Homo sapiens: one gene and its partners. The protein of the gene in region 4 interacts with the protein of the main gene of each other region in a pairwise test. Each region holds a gene or a part of one and is shown on either strand. Other genes may lie near its edges. The genes, in order: FMNL2, CCDC33, ARNT2, MIPOL1, KIAA1328, TTC12 and RNF6.

What was found.
Region 1: the proteins of MIPOL1 (region 4) and FMNL2 interact in a two-hybrid assay, tested with the Homo sapiens proteins (one large-scale study listed by BioGRID).
Region 2: the proteins of MIPOL1 (region 4) and CCDC33 interact in a two-hybrid assay, tested with the Homo sapiens proteins (one large-scale study listed by BioGRID).
Region 3: the proteins of MIPOL1 (region 4) and ARNT2 interact in a two-hybrid assay, tested with the Homo sapiens proteins (one large-scale study listed by BioGRID and IntAct).
Region 5: the proteins of MIPOL1 (region 4) and KIAA1328 interact in binary tests that used the Homo sapiens proteins (3 or more experiments, as listed by UniProt).
Region 6: the proteins of MIPOL1 (region 4) and TTC12 interact in binary tests that used the Homo sapiens proteins (3 or more experiments, as listed by UniProt).
Region 7: the proteins of MIPOL1 (region 4) and RNF6 interact in a two-hybrid assay, tested with the Homo sapiens proteins (one large-scale study listed by BioGRID and IntAct).

Annotation. Positions count from the first base shown.
Region 1 is NC_000002.12:152,341,674-152,345,173, reverse strand, and holds part of FMNL2 (formin-like protein 2), read right to left. Parts: intron 1-3,500. UniProt on the Homo sapiens protein: Plays a role in the regulation of cell morphology and cytoskeletal organization. Required in the cortical actin filament dynamics.
Region 2 is NC_000015.10:74,267,326-74,270,825, forward strand, and holds part of CCDC33 (coiled-coil domain-containing protein 33), read left to right. Parts: intron 1-1,016; coding exon 1,017-1,133; intron 1,134-3,500.
Region 3 is NC_000015.10:80,407,382-80,410,881, reverse strand, and holds part of ARNT2 (aryl hydrocarbon receptor nuclear translocator 2), read right to left. Parts: intron 1-3,500. UniProt on the Homo sapiens protein: Transcription factor that plays a role in the development of the hypothalamo-pituitary axis, postnatal brain growth, and visual and renal function. Specifically recognizes the xenobiotic response element (XRE).
Region 4 is NC_000014.9:37,204,437-37,207,936, reverse strand, and holds part of MIPOL1 (mirror-image polydactyly gene 1 protein), read right to left. Parts: intron 1-3,500.
Region 5 is NC_000018.10:36,835,627-36,839,126, reverse strand, and holds part of KIAA1328 (protein hinderin), read right to left. Parts: intron 1-3,500. UniProt on the Homo sapiens protein: Competes with SMC1 for binding to SMC3. May affect the availability of SMC3 to engage in the formation of multimeric protein complexes.
Region 6 is NC_000011.10:113,338,583-113,342,082, reverse strand, and holds part of TTC12 (tetratricopeptide repeat protein 12), read right to left. Parts: intron 3,492-3,500; coding exon of another isoform or gene 3,414-3,491; intron 3,310-3,413; coding exon 3,249-3,309; intron 2,798-3,248; coding exon 2,609-2,797; intron 1,420-2,608; coding exon 1,350-1,419; intron 247-1,349; coding exon 158-246; intron 1-157. UniProt on the Homo sapiens protein: Cytoplasmic protein that plays a role in the proper assembly of dynein arm complexes in motile cilia in both respiratory cells and sperm flagella.
Region 7 is NC_000013.11:26,212,315-26,215,814, reverse strand, and holds the end of RNF6 (E3 ubiquitin-protein ligase RNF6), read left to right. Parts: intron 1-222; coding exon 223-1,991; 3' UTR 1,992-3,040; downstream 3,041-3,500. UniProt on the Homo sapiens protein: E3 ubiquitin-protein ligase mediating 'Lys-48'-linked polyubiquitination of LIMK1 and its subsequent targeting to the proteasome for degradation. Negatively regulates axonal outgrowth through regulation of the LIMK1 turnover.

The DNA of each region.
Region 1 (3,500 bases), on a different chromosome or scaffold from region 4:
TAGTCATAAATCAACTACCTACAGTTCCTTATAAGATTGATTTATATTTCTAAATCAAAATGAAACAATAATTGCTACTATCCTCTCAGTTCCAGAAAACCACATATGCTGTCCTCAAACCCCAAACCACAAATGCTAAAAATTATGAATAAGAGGAATGTCTATTTGCTTACATTATAATGAATAAAGAAATAACTAGAGTCTTGCATTGAGAACAATCAGCTCATTCTTGACCTAGCATCCTATTTATCTTTCTATTCTCAAGGCTAATTGCTTATATAAGCATGCCAATTTGCCTTGATTATAGGATTCTTAATAAATGAATGTTGTTTACATTTCACAAGTATATTTGAATTTCACTACAGGAAGCCAAGCTCATCAAGTCTTTGTAAATGGTAAAACCAGAGATCAAAGCAAAAGGGCTGCATTGAACCAACAAACAATTAGGCTACAGAATGGAGGCCTAAGCAAAAATGCAATTGATTTATTGATTGTTCTACTCCAGAAGTATACTTCTGGGTCATTGCTTAATCTTACACCATATGTATAGAATTTTCTCACAAATTTTCATTATGATAATTTGGTGGTCATTTCTTAAATAGTTAAATAAAGTCTCTCTACCATTCAACAGGATTTATCCTTTTCTTCTGTATTTTTTCATCTTGTTGCTTTTAGTTGAATCAAATATCTTTCATTTTTTTAACTCTTCTCAACCTTCTCAATTTTGCCTAATCTATCCAAAATTTTGTTTAACTTCTTAAACAATCCCTTTTCTATTACACTCATTATCTTGTTTTCTGCTGGTTTTAACTCATAGGCAAATTGGCTTGGTCTTTGGGGTAGGAAGAAAAAGGGGGAAAACATCTAGCACAGTGGCTGTCAACCTTGGCTGCACATTCAAACCTTCTAGGGAGCTTTTAAAAATCCTGATGCCCAGGTCACATTCCAGACAAATTTATCAGAATTTCTGGGAGTGGAACCCAGGCATTTGTGGGTTTCTGTTTTTGTTTTTGTTTTTGTTTTAGAGATAGTCTTGCTCTGTTGCCCAGACTAGAGTGCAGTGGCATGATCATAGCTCACTGCAACCTCAAACTTCTGGGCTCAAGCAATCCTCCTGCCTCAGCCTCCCAGGTAAGCTGTGACTACAGGCATGCACCACCACATCTGCTAATTTTCATTAGTAGTAGAAATGAGGTCTCCCTATGTTGCTCCACACTGGTCTAGGACTCCTGGCCTCAAGTGATCCTCCTGTCTTGGCCTCCCAAAGTGCTGGGATTACAGGCGTGAGCCACTGTACCTGGCCCACTTGTACTTTCTGAGGATCGCCAAGTGATGTCAATGCACAACCAAGTTTGAGAACCACTACTTTAACTTACCAATACCCTTATTCTAGCTTAAATAAGGTGTTCTGCCAAACTTCCACGGAGAGAAAAAAAACAAGGAAGGGAAGTCAGGTTCCTGAGCAAACCCTCAACCAAGACAGGTCTTGAGACTAGTGAGATGTGTTATTTAAAAGCACCATCAGTCACACGTTAGTGTCCCAGCACCAGGCACATGGTCAAAAATGTGAACTATTTAAGCCGGGTGTGGTGGCTTATGCCTGTAATCCCAGCACTTTGAGATGTCAAGACTGGTGGATCACTTGAGGTCAGGAGTTCAAGACCAGCCTGGCCAATGTGGTGAAACCTTGTCTCTACTAAAAGTACAAAAACTAGCTGGGTGTGGTGGTGCGTGCCTGTAATCCCAGCTACTCAGGAGGCTGAGGCAGGAGGATCGCTTGAACCCAGGAGGCAGAGGTTGCAGTGAGCTGAGATCACGCCACTGTACGCCAGCCCAGATGACAGAAGGAGAATCCATCTCAAAACAAAAAAATATGAACTATTTGATATTTGACATCATTCCCAAAACCAAGCCATGGGCATCTTCTATGCACAGAAGTCAGTCAAGTGAGATTACTTCTGGGGATAGCAGGGTCTAAACACCTCAAGGCTTTCAGCTTCTGTGGCAATGGTTACAGGGGCTTACAAATGCATCAGAACTTCTGCAAAGAAAAAAGGAGACTAAGGTTACATGTGAAATGAGAGTCACCAAAGTCAATTACAGGCTAAACAAGAACACTGAAGATCATGGAATCACAGAAACTATATGAAGTTTGTCCTAGAAACTATACAAGACTAGAAATCATAGAGAGTTTGTGATAATTGCCTACCAGTGAACACTGATGGTCATGTTTTTCTGTTTGTTTTTTCAGAGAGTGAAAAGAATGTACATTTTTATCTGTCAACATCAAATACCATCATACCTGGTAAATAGGGCTGAATGTTGCCCAATTTCAGAATTCCAAGCCCGTCTGGTCCACATCTCCGGGCCTTGGTTGAGATCACAGTTCAAGAGGCAGCTCTCCAACCTAACAGCTCTTCCCTTAGACATTGCTTCCAAATTATATGCTATCAGTTGGAAACTGCATAGTCCTTGGCATTTATGTTGAAAGACAGGTTTCTGGAAAGGAGGAAGGGGTCACTGGGGAGGAGGGAGGAAGATCACCCTGCAGTATGAACAGATGGAATTCTAAAGGGAAGACAAGCAATGAGCTATCTCTGTCCCCAGTGTTCAAGTAGGTGAGAACTAAGAAGGTACATGAAGGCTCTCTAAGGAACCATGACTCCAAAGCCTAGGGACACACTTCTTATTTGCAGGGATGGCAGTGGCACTCCATAAAGAGCCGCTCTACAAGATGAGATCTGCCAAGCAACTGTATAGCTTGTAACTCACCTTCCCTCCTAAGTTCCTCTAGGCTGTTCCTTCTTTTATAAGGATTCAATGCTTTGTTCCTAAAAGTACTCCAGTTACAGCGTCCTCTTGCAAAGGAGGGGCAATCATCTATAATCAGTGCTTCTTGTATTAGCTACTTTTTTGACATCTATTACTTGCTTAAACCTGAGGGCTGGAGAGCCCACTTTACCTTGTCCCTATTCCCCAAGCTCTAAATATGAAAAAGAAGAGCACTGTTCATTAAGACCAAACCCTTTAAGCAACAGTTCTTATAAAGTCAAATGAATTTCCAGAACAAACATCAGCCCATACGTATCTTTTTCTTCTTTAAGCCCAGGAAGCACCTACCAGGAGATCTTTCCCCACTCTCAGGTGTTATAATTCTATGTCTAGAACCTGCAAGTTGCAGACTCACCTCAAAGAGGGCAACTTTCGAGCCAATAATGTACTTCCTATCTTCTTGGGCTGCAAAGGGCCTTCCAATCACCAGTGTTTGTCACACAGATTATCTGAATAACTTTAACGGAGAACTCACCATCCATTTTCAACAACTCTACATGTTAGAATATTTTTCCCTATGCTCATATGACTTTCAGTCACTGACCCTGGGGAATTCTACTCTTTAGACCACACAGAACACCCCTACACACATTTCCACCTGAAAGCTCTTCAAAAGCCAATGTCAACTAATGAATCACAATGTATTATGTTCTGGAAATTTTGTTTTC
Region 2 (3,500 bases), on a different chromosome or scaffold from region 4:
GCTGCCTTGGCCAGAAGGCCCAGGAGAGTTGGGGGGTACATGGAATAAAGCATTCCCTGGAATGCACCCCTGGAGTGAGCAACTGGGTCCAAGCCATGGACTGAGGGGCCTGAGGCTCCTCACTCCAAGGTTGGGCCTCCCAGGCCAGACCCCTGCCTGTCCTCCCTCCTAGTGCTGAAGGGTAAGGGGTAGAATTCACTCTCTCATTGCTCAAGGACTTATGAAGCACCTACTATGTGCCAGGTAGTGAGCCAGAGATGAACAGAAGCATCACATTCCCCTCCCCACTGTGCATTCCAGACCCTGAAAGTGGTTGAGAGTAAAGAACAATGTGAAGCCAGACTGTCGGGGGTCCTAGACCAAGTTTGTTGCCTCCTAGCTGGATACCCATGGAAGCCACTTGGTCCCCAGGCCTCCATCCTCACTGGCAAAGCTGGCACAGTCGTTTTGAGGATCTCAAGCAATGATAGGCAAGGTTCCTGGCATACAGTAGGTGCTCAGTTTGGTCAGTTACCCTCCCCCATCCCTCCTCCGGGCCAGCACTGAACTTTCTTCTAAGCATTTCTTCAATCATGGCACCAGGGGGCTTTACCTTCTCTTAGGCCCCATGAGGAACCCCAATCCCAGGGCTTCAGGATGGGCCATGCAGGGAAGTAAAAGAGAGATGTGCTACTCACCCTGGGAGACTCAGCACTTGAGCTGTAATTCTGGGGGCATCACCCAGGCCCCCTGGCTGTCTGTTCACTTACAACCCAGGCCTTGTTATCACATCTTTACTGGAAAGCAGACAGGCAGTGGTCCTTGTGAGGGTGATGAAATATTCAAATGGAAAAGGGAAGATTTATTATATTGATCTCCTTGGAAGGGCTCACAGGGACCATGAGCTTTAATTATCAGCTCGGAGCCCCAGCGGAGCAATGCCAAGTGATTGTCTGCAGAGGGCTGGATTTATGGCCAGGATCTGCCCCTTAGACACTCTCCTTCCTCTGTGTCTTCTGCCCCAACCCTGTCTCCAGCCCACTGAGTCTGGGAAAGCCGATGAAGCCACTGCCAAGACCCAGTTGTACGCAACAGTCGTTCGGAAGAGCAGCTTCATACCCCGCTACATCGGCTGCAACCACATGGCTCTGGAGGTACCAGGGCTGGGGCCCTCTGGGGTGGTGGTGGGGGTGGGAAAGGGCCAAGCTTTGAGCAGGCCCCACGCCTTGCCCTTAGCCCCCTCTGGCTGACCTGAGGGTGTGGAGCAGAGATGTCAAGAATGGAAAAAGCAACCAGGCCTTTCCAAAATAGCAAAAGGAGTTGTGAAGACAAGCCCTTTGGCAGGGATGACAAGGATGAAGATGCTCAAGCCTCTTCTCCTTCCCTCTCTGTCTTGGAGGTGGCGGGGAGGGGCTCAGCCACACTGCTGCTCCTGGTGTACCGTCTCTGTGCTGCAGTGGGGACCAGAGCCTGTCTCCCCGAATCTTATGCTAGGGGCAGGGGAGAAGCCCCGTGCTCCCCCTGAGCCCACAGCCCAGCAGTTTCCTGCTCTATTCTTCCCCTCCTGGGATAGTGCCTTGGCCCCCAAGCAAAAGTTTAGGGCCTCCTTGAGCTTTCCTTCAGCACTGTGTCTAAAGAGGTTTGACTGGTCTGGCGATTAGGTATTTAGTTTATTCATTCATTTATTCATCCAGCAACTGTTTACAGAGCCTCTTCCATTAGCCAGGACAGGGCTGAGCCCACCTTGGGCCTGGCCACTGCCCCTTGACCCATCACCATCCACCCCCTAGGCCAATTAGCAGCTTTGGGAGGAACTCTTGATGCTCAAAGCAGACATGATGCAGGGACCTGGCCCCTCTCCCATTCCCCCCAACTTTCAAACTGCCCATGGGTGACAGATTCAAATTCAGCTATGGCCTGAGTATGATCAGGGTGGGAGCCACAGGACCCAAGCTCTGAGCTTCCACCTACCCAAACATGGCTGATCTGTTCCTATCCTTCCCACCCCCCTACTTCCCACCAGCACCGTGGGCCTGGCAGGGAAGGAAGCATTCTTTTGCCTTCTTTCACAGCCAGGGACACTGAGACCCAAGGGGAGTATGGTATGGGAGCCAAAACTCCTAACCCACATTTCTACTCCCCTACAGCCACCCCTCTGATGCCAGCATATCAGACCTACAGGCGCCCTCTGCTCCCCGCCACCTTCTATCACGCCCTTTCCTGAGGACAGCCAGCAATTCACACACACACAGAACAAGGAAGAGGGGCAACAGCCTGGCCTTGCTGTCCCCAGGCCGCACCCCACAGGGAGGAGGCCACATCCCCAAGACACAGGCAGAACTTTAGGGCTGCTGTGGAGCTGCCCCACCCCACCCAGCCCTCTGACTTGCCTGGTAGAGCGGTAGAGTAGGGGCCTTCTCTGGCTCACAGCACCCTGCCCACTCTCCTGCCCCAGCACAGATGCCCTCTCCATCCGTGCGACAGGTATGGCCACAGAGCAGCTGCCTGCTCCTGATGGTGAGCGCATGGCAGGAGCAGGAACTTCTGCTACTTCCCAGGCTGTCATGAGCAGGTGTACTTGGGCAGCTGTCTCATTCACACCTGATCAGAGTCCACACAGAACAGGTGCAAATTAGCTGCCACCACCCCCTTTTTAGTCTTACACCTGCTGGGGAGCCTGTGAGCAATAGGGCCTGCCAGCCTCCAGTGAAATCCCTCAGCCCCAGACCCCAGACCCATCCAAAGTGTGAAATGTACCATCAGAGATTCAATCCTTTGAATGTGATGAAGGGATTCAGTCTCCAGAGCCCTCAGTGAGAGCTGCGAGGCCCTAAGGACTATTGTACGTGCCCATCAGCTCACACCTGTGTGGGGTTAGAGGTGGGAAAACCAGCTGAGATGGGTATTGAAAGAGGAGCCTGAAAGGAGGGTGCGGAGGGAGAAAAGGGAGAATGATCCAGAACAAGCCTCACTCCTGGGCCCTCGCCAGCCACAATGGGTTGGTGGGAGCTGCAGGGAGTCTGAGTAGAGGGATCAGCATGTGCAAAGACCCTGTGGCAGAAATAAGAGGGGTAAGTGGCAGGAGTAAAAGAGTCTGGAGCAAGAAGACAGGGGCTGGGGGCCTGTCGGGAGACACGGCAGAGGGGCTTGTGGGGTGTCGGGCAGGGAATAACGTGACCCAGTTCATTTTTAACAAGAGCACTTTTGCCATCATGTGTCAAATTGCCTGGGAAAGAGGATGGATTAGGGAAAGGAACAGAAGTGGAGAGGCTAGTGAGGAGGCAGAGGAATCGAAGGAGCAAGAGGAATGAGAGCCGAGTGGGAGGTGGGTGAGGGCTGAGGGAGAGTGGGAGCCATTGGTGGATACAGGGTGAGGGTCAGGGTCCGGGAGATCAGGGCCTCTTAGGCTGGCAGCAGAGGCGCATGGGGACAGACTCCCTGTCTCCCCTGTCTGCCTTCCAGTGTCCCCCAGGCCCAGACTGAGCAGGGGGTCAGTGAGGGTTGGAGCAAGGTGACGCTGT
Region 3 (3,500 bases), on a different chromosome or scaffold from region 4:
CAAAAGGAGGGAAAGAGAAAGAGAGAGAGAGAGAGAGATGGTAGACAGATGATAGGTAGGTAGATAGATGATAGATAGATAGATAGATAGATAGATAGATAGATAGATAGATAGATAGATAGATAAAAATGAATGGATTGCTGGATCTGGAAAAGATGCAGAAATAATCTCCCTATGACCTTGTGTCTTAGTGAATCTCAATAAAGACAGACAATAAAGCAGTAAATGCAAGCATTGTTTGGGAACTATGGTACTTGGACCAAAAGCTCTATGTTCTGTGAACTAACTTACCCCAAGGAAAGCATTTAGAGAACCTGGTAAATGGCTGGCCAACATCCCTCTTTGTTTCCTTCTCCAGCCCAGATCTCTGGGAGCATGTGTCCCACTGCCTCCATGACAGTTCCACTTGCTTGTCGCACAAGCAGCTCAACTCAGCTGTCCAATACTGAAGCCTGGAGCACACCCCACAGGCCCCCTGCCTCTCACTAACTTCCTGTCACCTCCAACCACCCAGGTGTTGGACAGAAAGCTGGGAATCGTCCTTGACTCTTCCCCTAACTCCTTACAATGAAGTCATGATGATTCTGCCCCAAGCAGGACATGTCGTGCCCAAGGGATGGACAGGGAAGTAACTGGTGCCCCTGGAGTTGTTCAGCATGGCATCCCTGCCCCCAGTATAACTCAAATCCACCTCCCTCTCTCTCATTCTCTACTGACAGCCCCTGACCTAAGTTAGCACCATCTAACTGGAGTCTTACTTTTCCTCCCGCTTCAGTCCAATTGGCTCTCCACACAGCAGCCAGAAGCAGCATTTAAAAGTGCAGGTCAGATCATGCCCCTTGCTCAAACCCCCTTCAGTAGATTTCCAGCGCTTTTTAAAAATGAAGTCTCAGTCCCTAACCCAAAAGTGGTCCCCCGTGAGCTGGCCTCTACCGCAGCTCCAGCTTCTCACACCGCTTTCACCCTTGCTCCCTGTTCTCCAGCTCTTCCCAACTCAGGGCCTTTGAAGGGGCTCTTCCTTGTGCCTGGAATGCTCTTCCTCACATTTCTCATCATTCCTTGGAGCTTGACTCAAGGGTCAACTCCTCAGAGAGGCTTTCACTGACTTCAAATGGCCTTTGCTAATCCTCTAATTTAGGTCCCTTGGTTATTTTATCTCAGGGGATCATTTCTTCATAACATTTACACTTTTCATAACTAACCCAATTGTGTTACTCTTTTGTGACTATTTGTCTTGCTAGCAAGCAGCATGATGGTAGGAGTTATACCTAATTTGCTCACCACAGTGATCCCAGAACCAAGATCAGTCCCCGGCACATAGTAGTTACTCAGTAAGTATTAGCCCCTAGCAGCTTCATTCGTCATAATTGCCAAAACTTAGAAGCAACCCAGATGTCCTTCAGTAGGTGAATGAATAAATAAACTGTGGTACATCCAGACAATGGAATATTCTTCGGCACCAAAACAAATGAGCTATCAAGCCACTGAAAGATACAGAGAAAATGTAAATGCATATTATTAAGTGAAAAATGCCAGTTTGAAAAGGCTACGTAATGCATGAATCCAATTACATGACTTTCTGGAAAAGGCAAAACTATGGAGACAGTAAAAACATCAGTGGATGCCAAGAATTCGGAAGTGGGAGGAATGAATAGGTGGAGCATGGAGAATTTTTAGGGCAGTGAAAATACTCTGCATGATATTATAACGGTAGATATAAGTCATATACATTTGTCCAACCCATAGAACGTCTACCAACCATCAAGAGTGAATCCTAATGTGAACTATGGACTTTGGGTGATAATGATGTGTCATTGTAGGTTCATCAATTGTAACACATGTACTACTCTGCTGGGGAATGTTGATCATGGGGGAGGTTGTGCATGTGTGGGGGCAGGGGATATATGAGGAATCTCTGTGCCTTCCTTTCAATTTTGCTGTGAACCTAAAACTGCCCTAAAAAAGGAGCCTTTAAAAATTAACTTTTTAAAATTCATTAATTAATTAAAATAAATATATACTGAAGGAATAAATAAATCTCTTTTTTCAGGTATCACTTCTTCCTTTTTTTCTTTCTTTTGATGAAAGCCAAAATGCCATCAGCTCATTTTTTTCTTATAAGTCCATAAAAGAATGATGTGTCCTGCAACTGATGGGCTCGTAGATTCAATGAAGGACAGGATATAGAGAAATTGGGCTCAACTGTATGTCCAGCTGGTTTGGCTGTTCCAGCCCTACTCAAGGCAGGACAGCTTGCAAGCATAGCGCACACGTCTCAAAGGCTCAAAACCTACCCACATTCTTGGGTGTCCTGCTGAGTCCCCAAGAGCACTGAGGAAGCAACCACTTGACAGTATTCCATATTTTCACAAATCTTGTCTGCCTCACACGCCAGCCATCAGCGCAAAATGACCATTCCTAAATTCTCTATAAGTCAAAATCTCTGTCTTCAAAAGGCCCACGTTCAGAAGTTACCTCCCATAAGACTTCCTCTGGCTCCCCATGATGATATGAACATGCCTAGTCAACGTTCATTTCATTCCACCTGGTGTTATTAAGTTAGTCTACCTATGCCTCCCCTAGTAGACTTAGAACCCCCTGAGGTCAAGAAATATTCTCCCTCATCTCCACATTGCTCTATTCCCTGCAGACAGCTTGGCATATCAAAGATATCCAATCAGTTCAACAAGCTGATTCAAATGTCCCTCCATCTAAGGCAATTTGTCCAGAGAATCTTCCTGCACTATACAATTAATTCCAAATTGAAATGCCAAAGACCAGAAACCTGGAAGTGGGGAAAAAATCCAATAATTGATTTCAGAAAAAAAAGTGGAATTCCAAATCTCTTAAAACATAATTTTGAAATCCTTTAAAACATATGAGCCTTATTAATTACTCTGCAAATACTCATCTCAGAGAATGTCCACATAATGCTTAATTCCTAATGATTACTGGTCTGAATTTGTAGCTGATTCCCTCATGCTTAAATTACAAAAGATTAAGATGGAACAATGACATTGGGGAAACAATCTCCTTCTTAATTGTGCCATTTCAGCTGCAAATACCCTTTTATGTATATAACTAATTCAAATCTTCACTATTTCCTATACATCAGAAACACTTAAATGTCATTCAAAAAGGCAGCAAAACAACACACACACACACACACACAGACACACAAAACGGAAGATTCTATGACTTCACTCTCTAGTCTAAAGGATATATGTCATTCCTGGCCAGAGAGAAAAGAGAAAATCAGCCAATACAACAGTTTCAGTGACCAACGTAAGGACTGTAAATGACCCAGAAGGAGGAGGCACCAGGGGCCACAGGATATGAGGAATATAACCAGGACTGTCATAGCAGAAGTCATGAGGAGAATATCTGGGAGCCCAATCCTTTCTTCTCCTCTCCCAGAGTAGCTGGTAGAATCCTAACCTAAAACCCCAACAGGGGACCTTGAAGGAGCAGATTCCAAATTTGGACCTGTATTATATCCA
Region 4 (3,500 bases):
AGCAATTAAATTATAACCAAAAACAAGTATGGGATTTATAGTTAAAACTGTTAATAATTGGTTTTTCAAGATATAAAAATAGCATGCCCTCAGCCTGGCATGGTGGCTCACACCTGTAATCCCAGCACTTTGGGGGGCTGAGGTGGGTAGATCACCTGAGGTCAGGAGTTCAAGACCAGCCTGGCCAATGTGGTAAAACCCCATCTCTACTAAAAATACAAAAATTAGCCAGGCATGATGGCACGTGCCTGTAATCCCAGCTACTCGGGAGGCTGAAGCACAAGAATCGCATGAACCTGGGAGGCAGAGGTTGCAGTGAGCCAAGATCGTGCCACTGCACTCCAGCCTGAGCAACAGAGAGAGACTCCATCTCAAAAAATAATAATAATAATAATAATAATATCATATCCTCAAATAAGTTTAAACTGATAAAAACAGATTAAAGCTTTTCTGATATTAATGAATAGTGTAGTTGTCTATTGCTACCTATATTAGTCTGTTTTCACACTGCTGATGAAAACATACCCAAGACTAGGCAATTTGCAAAAGAAAGAGGTTTAATAGACTCACAGTTCCACATGGATCGAGAGGCCTCACAATCATCATGGAAGGTAAAAGGCACATTTCACATGGTGGTGGCAGGAGAGAATGAAAGCCAAGCGAAAGGGTTCTATAAAACCATCAGAACTCACCTGGACTTATTCACTACCAGGAGAACAGTATGGGGGAACTGCCCCCATGATTCAAGTATCTCCCACTGGGTCCCTTCCACCACATGAGGGAATTACGGGAGCTACAATTCAAGATGAGATTTGAGTGGGAATACAGCCAAACCATATCATTCCGCCCCTGGTTCCTCCCAAATCTCATGTCCTAACATTTCAAAACCAATCATGTCTTCCCAACAATCCCCCAAAGTCTTAACTCATTTCAGCATTAACTCAAAAGTCCACAGCCCTAAGTCTCATCCAAGACAAGGCAAGTCTTTTCCACCTGTGAGCCTGCAAAATCAAAAGCAAGTTAGTTCCTAGATACAATGGGGGTACAGGCATTGGGTAAATACAGCCATTCCAAATGGGAGAAATTGGCCAAAATGAAGGGGCCATAGGCCCAATGCAAGTCCAAAATCCAGCAGGACAGTCAAATCTTAAGGCTCCAAAATTATCTCCTTTGACTCCATGTCTCACATGCAGGTCACACTGATGCAAGAGGTGGGTTCCTACATCTTGGGCAGCTCTGCCCCTGTGGCTTTGCAGGGTACAGCCTCCCTCCCAGCTGCTTTCACGTATCAGTGTTGAGTGTCTGAGGCTTTTCCAGGAGCATGGTGCAAGCTGTCAGTGGATCTACCATTCTGGGGTCTGGAGGATGGTGGCCCCCTTCTCACAGTTCCACTAGGCAGTGCTCCAGTAGGGACTTTGTGTGGGGGATCCAATCCCACATTTCCCTTATGCACTGCCCTACCAGAAGTTCTCCATGAGGGCCCCATCCCTGTAGCAAACTTCTGCCTGGATATCCAGGCATTTCCATATATCCTCTTAAATCTAGGCGAAGATTTGCAAACCCCAGTTCTTGACTTCGGTGCACTCACAGGCTCAACATCACATGGAAGCTTCCAAGGCTTCGGGCCTGCGCACTCTGAAGCCATGGCCTGAGCTCTACATTGGCCCCTTTCAGCCAAGGCTGGCGTGTCTGGGACACAGGGTACCAAGTCCTTGGACATAGCATGGGGACCCTAAGCTTGGTCCATGAAACCATTTTTTCCTCCTAGGCCTTTGGGCCTATGATGGGAGGGGCTGCCATGAAGACCTCTGACATACCCTGGGGACATTTTCCCCATTGTCTTGGGGATGAACATTTGGCTCCTTGTTACTTAGGCAAATTTCTGCAGCTGGCTTGAATTTCTCCTCAGAAAATGGGTTTTTCTTTTCAATTGCAGGGTCAGGCTGCAAATTTTCTGAACTTTTATGCTCTGCTTCCCTTATAAAACCGAATGTGTTTCAGGCACATGTATGTTTATATGGTACTATTCACAACAGCAAAGACTTGGAATCAACCCAAATGTCCAACAATGACAGACTGGATTAAGACAATGTGGCACATTTACACCATGGAATACTATGCAGCCATAAAAAAGCATGAGATCATGTCCTTTGCAGGGACATGGATGAAGCTGGAAACCATCATTCTGAGCAAACTATCACAAGGACAGAAAACCAAACACCGCAAGTTCTCACTCATAGGTGGGAACTGAACAATGAGATCACTTGGACACAGGGTAGGCAACATCACACACCAGGGCCTGTTGGGGGATGGGGAGCTGGCGGGGGACAGCATTTGGAGAAACACCCAATGTAAATGATGAGTTGATGGATGCAGCAAACCAACATGGCACATGTATATACCTATGTATCAAACCTGCACTTTGTGTACATGTACCCTAGAACTTAAGGTATTAAAAAAAAAAAACTGAATGTGTTTTAACAGCAGCCATGTCACCTCTTGAAAGCTTTGTTGCTTAAAAATTTCTTCCACTGGCTGGGTGCAGTGGCTTATACCTGTAATCCCTGCACTTTGGGAGGCCGAGGTGGGTGGATCACCTGAGGTCAGGAGTTCCAGACCAGCCTGGCCAACATGATGAAATCCTGTCTCTACTAAAAATACAAAAAATTAGCTGGGCGTGGTAGTGCATGCCTGTAATCCCAGCTACTCAGGAGGCTGAAGCAGGAGAATCACTTGAACCCAGAGGTGGAGGTTGCAGTGAACTGAGATCGTGTCACTGCACCCCAGCCTGGACAATAAAAGCAAAACTCCGTCTCAAAAAAAAAAACAAAAAACTTATTCCATCAGATATCTTAAATCATCTCTCTCAAGTTCAAAGTTCGACAAATCTCTGGGGCAGGAGCAAAATGCCGCCAGTCTCTTTGCTTTTGCTACAGTTCTCAACAAGTTCCTCATTTCTATCTGAGACCACCTCAGCCTAGATTTTATTGTCCATATCACTATCAGCATTTTGGGCAAAGCCATTCAATAAGTCTCCAGGAAGTTCCAAACTTTCCCACATTTTCCTGTCTTCTTCTGAGCCCTCCAAACTATTCCAGCCTCTGCTTGTTACCCAGTTTCAAAGTCACTTCCACATTTTCAGGTATCTTTTCAGCAGCACCCCACTCTACTGTATTAGTCCATTTACTGTGTTAGTCTGTTTACTGTGTTAGTCCGTTTTCACGCTGCTAATAAAGACATACTTGAGACCAGGCAATTTACAAAAGAAAGAGGTTTAATGGGCTCGCAGTTCCACGTGGCTTGGGAGGCCTCACAATCATCGTGAAAGGTGAAAGGCACATCTCACATGGCGGCAGCAAAAAAGAATGAAAGCCAAGCAAAAGGGGTTTCCCCTTATAAAACCATCACATCTCATGGACTTATTCACTACCATGAGAACGGTATGAGAGAAACCACCCATGATTCAATTATCTCCCACTGGATCCCTCCCACAACATGAA
Region 5 (3,500 bases), on a different chromosome or scaffold from region 4:
CATTTCCCAATTTGATGAAAACTATAAACCCACAGTCCCAAAAAGCTCAACAAACCTCAAACAAAAGAGATACTTTAAAAATTACTCCAAGGTAGGATGGGCATGGTGGCTCACACCTGTAATCCCAGCACTTTGGGAGGCCGAGGCGGGCAGATAATGAGGTCAGGAGTTCGAGACCAGCCTGACCAACATGGTGAAACCCCATCTCTACTAAAAATACAAAAATTAGCCGGGTGTGGCGGTGCACGCCCGTAATCCCAGCTACTCAGGAGGCTGAGGTAGGAGAATCACTTGAACCTGGGAAGCGGAGGTTGCAGTAAACCAAGATCGTGCCACTGCACTCTAGCCTGGGCGACACAGCAACTCTGCACCTCAAAAAAAAAAATTACTCCAGGGTATACTATAACCAAATTGCTCAAAACCAGTGATAAGAAGAAAATCTTAAAAGCAGCCATATTTAAACACATACACACAGAAAAATAAGGAGGAATAAAAATGACAGCCAACTTCTTAAAAACAATACAAGCCAGGCAACAGTGCAGCAACATCTTTAAAGCACTGAATGAATAAAACTATCAACTCAGAATTTTATAACCAGCAAAAATATCTTTTGAAAAGGAAAGAGAAATAAAGACTTTTCAGACATACGTGAGCTGAAAAAATTCTTTCCTAGCATACCTGAACTAATGTTAAAGGAAGTCTTTTAGGAAATCTGGATACACGTGAAAGAATGAAAACACCAGAAATGGTAACTACATGAGTAGATTTAAAAGACTTCTGTTGCATTTGTAAAATTTCTTTAAAAGGCAATTAAAATAAAATGCATCCAAAATGGAATAAAGGCATCCAATAAGAATATGTGAACTATCTCTATTCACAGACAACTTCATCTTATATAGAGAAAATGGTAAGGAATTCACAAAAGAACTATTAGATTAGAAATAGTTTGATAAAGTTGCAGGATACAAGATCAATTCACAAATCAACTGAATTTCTATATACTAGCAATAAACAATCCAACAGTGAAATTCAGAAACAACTGTGTTTCTAATAACATCAAAAAGTATAAAACATTTGCTGATTCTATAATGCCTATGGAAACACTGGGACCCAAAATAGCCAAAACAATCTTGAAAAAGAAGAAGTTGGAGGACTTATACTTCCTAATTCCAAAAATAAAAATATAAATCAATGGAACAGAATACAGAGAGTCCAAAAATAAACCCTTACACTTATGGTCAACAGATATTTGACAAGGGTGCCAAGAAATTCAAAGGGGAAAGGACAGTTTTTTTAACAAATGGTGCTGGGACAACTGGATATCTACATGCAAAGGAATAAAGTTAAACTACCACCTCACCCCATATACAAAAATTAACTCAAAATGGAATGAGAACTAAATGTAGGAGTAAAACCTTTAAAATTCTTAGAAAAAAAATAGGCACAAATATTTGTGACCTTGGATTAGGCAACAATTTCTCAGATATGACACCAAAGCAAAGGAGACAGAAGAAAACACTAGATAAACTGAACTTCATCAAAATTTTAAACTTCTGTGCTTCAAAGAACACCAATAAAAAAGTGAAAAGGCAATGCATAGAATGAGAAAAAATATTAGCAAATAATGTATCTGATAAGGGACTTGTAAATGGAATTTAGAAAGAACTCATAACTTAACAGTACTAAGACAAATAACTCAGTTAAAAAAGGATATGACTAGATATTTGTCTGACGAAGATACACAAATAGCCAAGAAGCACATAAAAACATGCTCATCATCATTTAGTCATTAAGGAAATGCAAATCAAAATCACATTGAATTACCACTTCACACCCACTAGGGTGGCCATCCTCAAAAAAGATGGACATAAATGTTGGCAAGAATGTGGAGAAATCTGAATCCTCATACATTGCTAGTCGAATGTAACATGGTGTAACCACTTTAAAAAACAGTTTGGAATTTTGTCAAAAGGTTAAACATAAAACTACACGACACAGCAATTCACTTATAGGTATATACACAAGAGAACTGAAAATATATGTCTACACAAAAACTTGTATATGAATGATCATGGAAGAATTATTCATAATAGCTAGAAAGTTGAACATGTCCATTGACTGATAAATGGATAAACAAAATGTATATTCAGACATAAAAAGGAATGAAGTAATGATACAGAATAGATGAACCTTGAAATCATTATGCTAAATCAAAGAAGCCAGTCACAAAAGGCCACATATTATGTGATTTCCTTTTATATGCAACATCAATAACAAGCAAATCTATAGAGACTGAAAGCAGATTAGTGTTTGCTAGGGGCTGAGATGACTGGGGAATGAGAAGTGCCTAATTGGTATGGGGTTTCTTTCTAGAGTGATAAAAATGTTTCGAAACTAGATTGTGGTGATGGATCCACAACTCTGTGAATATAAACACATACAAAATCAAAATAATAAACTGTACACTTTAAAAAGGTGAATTTTATATGCAAATTATATCTCAATTTGAAAAAAAAGAGAGTTGACTAAAGCAAATGTAATATGTATTTTGGGGTCTGTGCACATAAGTAAAATGTATGACAACAATATCAAAAAAGTCAGGAGGTGAGAAATAAAGTACAGTGTTGAAAGGTCCTTAAACTATAGGTAATGTGGGAAAATATCACTTGATAATAGGCTATGATAAATGAAAGATGTATACTATAATCTCTAAAGAAGCCACTGAAATAATCCAATCAAAAGTTATAGCCAATAGGACAAAAATATGAACTTAATCTAAAAGAAGGCTATTGTTCAATGTAAAACAAATCAACCATTATGTGAAAAAACATTTTTTAACTTTTTTTGATAAGAACTTGCAAATTCAACTATTCACACCCCAGTGTGAAGTGGGTACACTGGTACAAGTAACGTAAAGTAGGCCTTTTGATTCAATCACAGTAAAATCCTGTAGTAATAAATGAGGCACTGGAAATATCTTTGAGAACATAATTCACAGACTGAAAAAAGTTTTCTATAAAAGGTCTGATAGTAAATGTTTTTAGCTTGTGGGCATGCAGTCTCTGTAGCAACCCTGCTATTGTAACACAAAAGCAACCATAGACAATTATGTAAAACAATGAGCACAGCTGTATTCCAAAAAACCTTTATTTATAAAACAGGCAGAAGGATTTGGTCCACAGGTTATAGATTCCAGAACATTCATATACAAGTTTTGTGTAGACATCCTAGTGAGTGTGAAGTGGTATTGAACAACTCTGGTTGCAGAGGGAAAATATAACAAAAATTAAAGTAAAATAAACTGGTCAGATAGGACATGTGCCAAAGGAATGCACCGATACTATTACTATGCCTAGTCATTGATTTGTCCCTCATCTTTACGAGGGTTCATCTATCAAATAAATTCACAAGAATAAAAATCAAAAAGGATGCCTAATTAAAAAGCAATTCTCATCAGTTTGATTTACCAATGCCACACAGATCAGAATGTAGTTCTTTTG
Region 6 (3,500 bases), on a different chromosome or scaffold from region 4:
CTTTTGATCCATAAGCTTTCCTGGAGGGAGTGGGTGTGTGCGGAAGTCTAGACATCAGCTTTCCAGGGCCTGGCCTTTGGGGAGGACAGTCCACCCAACAGCGTAGTTCCTGCACGCAGCGCATTAATGGTGATCAACGGTGATTACCCAGGCTTACCGTTCCTGCTGCACACTGCTTGCCAGAGCTTGAGAACAGACACACAGACCATTTCTTCAACTGCATCATTTCCTGCTGTGGAAAAACACCTAGAATGGACAAAGGAGAGCTATCTTAAAAGTCTGAAAATCAGTCTTGATTTTCTTTTCCATTTGGTTTTATTTCACCCCTAGATTCACCAAATACAGGTTTGAGAAAGTATAGTTTTATAATCCAGAGCCATGGGTCACCAGGATCAATCACGGAACCATGAGTCCCAGGCCACGGATGCAGACTGAGGAAGCCAGGGCTGCACAGAGGCTGGGCAGTGAGCCAGGGCCATGGGCGATGGCTGCACTGGGACCAATGAACTGTGGCTGAGCACACAGACATGTACTGGTGACTCCAACCCACACGGGTATCCTAAGCCTCAGGAAGCACACCAGAACAACTGAAATGAAAATACAGTCACTTTAGCAAACTGCATCCTACCATACAGGTCTTTCTTCAGATGAAATTATAAATGGGATTGGCCCATTTATATTTATATCACTTCTTGATATGATCAGCAAATTCCAAAAGAAGAAATGAACAAATGACAACCTGGCAAAAACTGGTGGGAAAGCAGCAAGAATGATCATTTCTCTGACTTTGAAGAGCTTAGAGGAGCCCTGGGAAGTGCTGCTGTTCCTCTCTCTTCAATTGTTTCCTTTTTTTGAGACTGAATCTGGTTGTATCGCCTAGGCTGGAGTACAGTGGCGTGATCTCGGCTCACTGCAACCTCCGCCTCTCAGATTCAAGCGATTCTCGTGCCTCAGCCTCCTGAGCAGCTGGGATTACAGGTGCCTGCCACCATGCCCAGCTAATTTTTGTATTTTTAGTGGAGTCGGGGTTTCACCATGTTGGCCAGGCTGGTCTCAAACTCCTGACCTCAAGTGATCCGCCCGCCTTGACCTCCCAAAATGCTGGGATTACTGGCATGAGCCACCGCGCCCAGCCTCAATTGTTAGCTGCAGTGTAACTCCAATGTCTTGAGGGAAAGCACTCAAAGATGTTCGTGGAGTAGCTTTGCACTCCTGGAGAGCCCCCCACTACTGACTGAAGGGGGGTAATGTTCAGAAACGTGACTGTCTATGTGCCTCGTGTCTGATTTCATAAGCAGTGGTTATCTTCCCTTGCTTTGCTGCTGGGCTGTCTCTATGAACATCCCTACCTTCTTATGACCTCGTTGTCACTGATGATACTAAATCCATTGTGCATTCTGAATAAAGTTTGTTCTGTGCCTGAAACAGATACAAAGAAAACCACTTCAGACTCCCAAACTGGCTGGCTGGTGTCTCGCTGCAACACAGCCACCTGCTAATGAGAAACCTAATATGGAATGCCACGGTACCCACGTGAATGGTTTGGCAGGAACAAATGAACTTTACATTTTGAAACATACAATGGTCAGCAGCCTCTCAGCGTCAGAGGCCTCAGTGCCTCTCAGGCGGAGGGACTGTTTAGAGAAGGAGAGCAGAGCTGGGGTGGCCCCGAGGGCTATCTGCACAGCTCATCATTCTGTAATCTTCAGAGAGCCTCCCAGAGCTGCTTAACCTATGGGAAGTACCAGCATATCCATCTGTTCTTAAATATTTATTTCAAAGCTATTTCCAAGCTCCAGAGAGGAATTTATAATCTCCAAGAAACTGCTGAAGGGGATATTTGTGTGCCCTCCATTGTACACTAAAGAGAAGTCAGACACTCCATCTATTTGTACAAACAACATGCTGTCACTGAGTATAGAGATTATTTAAGCCTTGGTAACAATGTTTACAAGAGCTAGTAAAAGAGAACAGTATGGCCCTCATTAGTAGGAGAGCTGATGTTTGCTCTGAAACCATTTTCACATCCTATGCAGCCATTAACTGTAACTGGGTGAACCTTACAGTTTAACCTACAAAATTCTGTCTTCCATTCCTCCACAGTGGAGGGAAGGTGTACGAGGTGGTATGGGATGCTTGAGGTGTCTGTGGGGGTATGTGTGGAGTACACGCAGGATGTGCATGGGGTGTGTGGTGAAAATGTGAGGGTGGAGTGTGCGCAGGATATGTGGACTGACATGAGTACTTATGGTGTGAGTGTGCTGTGTGTGGTATGTGGTGTGTGTGTAATACAAGGATATATTCAAGTGAGTGAAAGCTGAGTGCATGTGTGGTGTATGTAAGTATATATCGAGTGTGTGCCACGTGTACGTGTTGTGTTGTGTATGTTTATTGCATGTGTGCTGAGTGTACGCATGCTCTGTAGAGAGGATGGAGCAGAAGTCGGAGGACATTTCTTGTGCACCCCTTTTAGCAGCTACATTAGCGTATATCTTTAATCAATATTTGTGGAAGGAAGGGAGGGATTCTTGGCCTGGTAAAGGCAGACCTCTGAATGTGTCCCTTCACACTGACAGCACTCATGAGATCACACACATCTCTGGCTTACACTCATTTATCATTTCAGTCAGGATCTCAATCCCCCCAGCATAGAACAAGGGGATCTGGTCAGGCTTGGAAAGGGTCTCCAGGAGGTTCTTGGTGGTCACGGCTGTGTTCTTTCCTGAATCCAGCAGTTCGTGGGCTTCCTTTTCTTGAAGGTCTGCTTTTTCCTGAAGATCTACTTGATTCAGGTAACCTAGAAAAACAAGAAAGGAAAGCAAAACAAAACCCTAACAATCAACAATACCACACAAGAAGCAACCTTTTTTTTTCCTTTCTTTTGAGGATGGGAGTTTGAGAAGCATAAAGCATTAAAATAATTAAAACTCTTCGTTAGCAAGGAAAATTTTAGAAACAGTCTAAATCTACAACCAGAATCTTAAACCTTGTTGGGGATTCAAGGGAGTCTAAAAGTGTCTAAGGGAGGATGGTGTAGAAAATGAAGAAGGAAAATATTACTATTTGCAAGGGAGCACAGCAAACAGAGGAGCAGAGTGGGCTGGTTAACACAGAGGACCCAACTGTGCAGGAAAGAGGATCCGCCGCTGCCTAGTGGCCAAGGGCAGTGAAAGCACGGAAGGCATTCTAAGGCAGGGGGCAGAGGGAGGTGGAGTTCAGATGAAGGACCTCAGCAGGAACGTGCTCACCTTTCACCTGGGTTTGCAGCTTGGGGTTTATTTCTAAGATCTTCTTATAACACTCTCTAGACTGGAAAAAAGAAACAAGACCTTGAAGAGTGGTTGGGGTAAAGGTGATTATGAGAAAGACACTGGGTGTCATTGGGCTTGGCTGCTTCATTATTTTCTCCTCACCTCCTCCTGCTCCCAGTGCAGGAGACAGGCATAGGAACACAATGTGCATTTGACATTTTTGTTCAGGCGTCTCCAGTTCTAGGGGGC
Region 7 (3,500 bases), on a different chromosome or scaffold from region 4:
TTTAAAGCTTTGTAACTATGTAAATAGTAATTTAATTTTTATAATATGCTTATAGTAGATATACTTTTCTTTTAGAAAGTTGTCTTTTTGCCATCTTTCATTCATTAAAATCCACAGATGTTCTTTAATTTATTACAAACTTTGTTTTTCTTACAAGTTTTCAATAAAGCTGTAAGGTGTGTCTTAGGAATTGATCTTAAGTTGATTTGCTTTGCTTTCTAGACTCAGAAGTCCCTAGAGAAAGTTCACATGAAGATTCTCTTCTAGAATGGTTGAACACCTTTCGGCGCACAGGAAATGCAACTCGAAGTGGACAAAATGGGAACCAAACTTGGAGAGCTGTGAGTCGAACAAACCCGAACAATGGAGAGTTTCGGTTTAGTTTGGAAATCCACGTAAATCATGAAAATAGAGGATTTGAAATTCATGGAGAAGATTATACAGACATTCCACTTTCAGATAGTAACAGAGATCATACTGCAAATAGGCAACAAAGGTCAACTAGTCCTGTGGCTAGGCGAACAAGAAGCCAAACCTCAGTGAATTTCAATGGTAGTAGTTCCAACATTCCAAGGACTAGGCTTGCTTCAAGGGGGCAAAATCCAGCTGAAGGATCTTTCTCAACATTGGGAAGGTTAAGAAATGGAATTGGGGGAGCAGCTGGCATTCCTCGAGCTAACGCTTCACGCACTAATTTCAGTAGTCACACAAACCAATCAGGTGGTAGTGAACTCAGGCAAAGGGAGGGGCAACGGTTTGGAGCAGCACATGTTTGGGAAAATGGGGCTAGAAGTAATGTTACAGTGAGGAATACAAACCAAAGATTAGAGCCAATAAGATTACGATCTACTTCCAATAGTCGAAGCCGTTCACCAATTCAGAGACAGAGTGGCACTGTTTATCATAATTCCCAAAGGGAAAGTAGACCAGTACAGCAAACCACTAGAAGATCTGTTAGGAGGAGAGGTAGAACTCGAGTCTTTTTAGAGCAAGATAGAGAACGAGAACGCAGAGGTACTGCATATACCCCATTCTCTAATTCAAGGCTTGTGTCAAGAATAACAGTAGAAGAAGGAGAAGAATCCAGCAGATCCTCAACTGCTGTACGACGACATCCAACAATCACACTGGACCTTCAAGTGAGAAGGATCCGTCCTGGAGAAAATAGAGATCGGGATAGTATTGCAAATAGAACTCGATCCAGAGTAGGGCTAGCAGAAAATACAGTCACTATTGAAAGCAATAGTGGGGGCTTTCGCCGAACCATTTCTCGTTTAGAGCGGTCAGGTATTCGAACCTATGTTAGTACCATAACAGTTCCTCTTCGTAGGATTTCTGAGAATGAGCTTGTTGAGCCATCATCAGTGGCTCTTCGGTCAATTTTAAGGCAGATCATGACTGGGTTTGGAGAACTGAGTTCTCTAATGGAGGCCGATTCTGAGTCAGAACTTCAAAGAAATGGCCAGCATTTACCAGACATGCACTCAGAACTGAGTAACTTAGGTACAGATAACAACAGGAGCCAGCACAGGGAAGGTTCCTCTCAAGACAGGCAGGCCCAAGGAGACAGCACTGAAATGCATGGTGAAAACGAGACCACCCAGCCTCATACTCGAAACAGTGACAGTAGGGGTGGCAGGCAGTTGCGAAATCCAAACAATTTAGTTGAAACTGGAACACTACCCATTCTTCGCCTTGCTCACTTTTTTTTACTAAATGAAAGTGATGATGATGATCGAATACGTGGTTTAACCAAAGAGCAGATTGACAATCTTTCCACCAGGCACTATGAGCATAACAGTATTGATAGTGAACTAGGTAAAATCTGTAGTGTTTGTATTAGTGACTATGTAACTGGAAACAAGCTCAGGCAATTACCTTGCATGCATGAATTTCACATTCATTGTATTGACCGATGGCTCTCAGAGAATTGCACTTGTCCGATCTGTCGGCAGCCTGTTTTAGGGTCTAACATAGCAAACAATGGGTAAGGTGATGGGATCTACTCAAATACTGTTTTTTAGTAGAACTGAATGTTCAAGCATTGTTTTGCTGAGTTATTTGTGATTAGCTAACCAGGATGAAAAATAACAGATTATATATAGTTTGAACTATTTTTCGTGTGCTTTTTTAAACTTGTTAAAAAGAAATTTATATAAAATTTAAAATACAAATGTTAAATTATCCAGAAATACAGAATAGTTAATATTGCTAGAACCAAATAACCTCTAAAATGTTTTTATTTTGGTAATTTTGTCATGCTAAGCACTTTTGTATCTGCACAATTCAGTAGGTTAAGAATCAATCTTCTTTTTCTTAATAGTACAGCAGACTTTAGCTTCAAGTTTCATAGGCTTAGTACTTATATCTAGACATTTGTGTCTAAATAAGCTTTTCATTAACTTTTTATTTTAAGGACAGTATCTTTTCATGAAAGAGTATTTGGCTGAATGTTTGCTATATATATGTTACTTGAAATGTTAAATTTAATATGCAGCATACCATAGGTGTATATATAGGTATATAATTTTAAGGTTAAAATATTCAGTCTACAAGTTTGGTTCTTATTTAAGCTTTTGGGCTAATACTGCATATGGCACAATGTTTAATATTGGCAAGTTCATCTCAGAGAAAGGGGATTCAGATATAATTTTAAAGTAGAGATAATTTACTGAAGCGTCTCTGACAATCTAACTTATTAGACAGCAAGCAATATATAATACTGAAAAAGTATTCAGAAATGGAAAATTTACATCATATAGGTTATTTAACTTGTGTTCAGCCTTTTTGTAACTTTTTTGAAAGTGCAAACAATTCTTTGGATTATTAAATAAGGTATACAGTATGCATGGTTTCTCAAATTTAGTTTTAAAATCTAAAAGTCTATAAAGAATCAGATGCATAGGCAATATGTTAAGTTCACTTGGAGGCTAAAAATCTCCAGTGAAAACAAAACGAAAACCTTTAAGAGAATGTAGAGTTTATATAAACACAAAGTATGCATTGAAGATCTGTTTCTACCAATAAACATTAAAACAAAGACTGTATGTGAACTATGTTTTTCTGTTGTTCCACTGTGGTTTATTCACCCTCCACTAATATTTCATACTAGATGCCAGGCAGTGTTATGGGATAGAGTATTTCCCAGACGACAGACAAAAGTCCCTGGCTTCATGGAAAAGACATATTTGCTCTTAGAAACTGAATATCAATTGATAAAGTGAATTATTATTCTTACTTTCATATTTGCTTATTAATATATGACAGGATTTTCTTGTGGTGATACTGTTTGGGCAAAATCACAAGAACAGTACTTAGGCCAGATTCTGTGAGATTTAGAAATATCTCCACATTTAATTTTCCTTTCTGACTGGTGACTATGTTCAATTCATTAGGTTAGATGCATGCCCAGGAATGTTAAGGAGTGCATTTACATGGAGTAAAAGGTTTTCATAAAAGTTGTGACTTTGTTTGGAGTAAATTATTTATGTAGGTCAGTT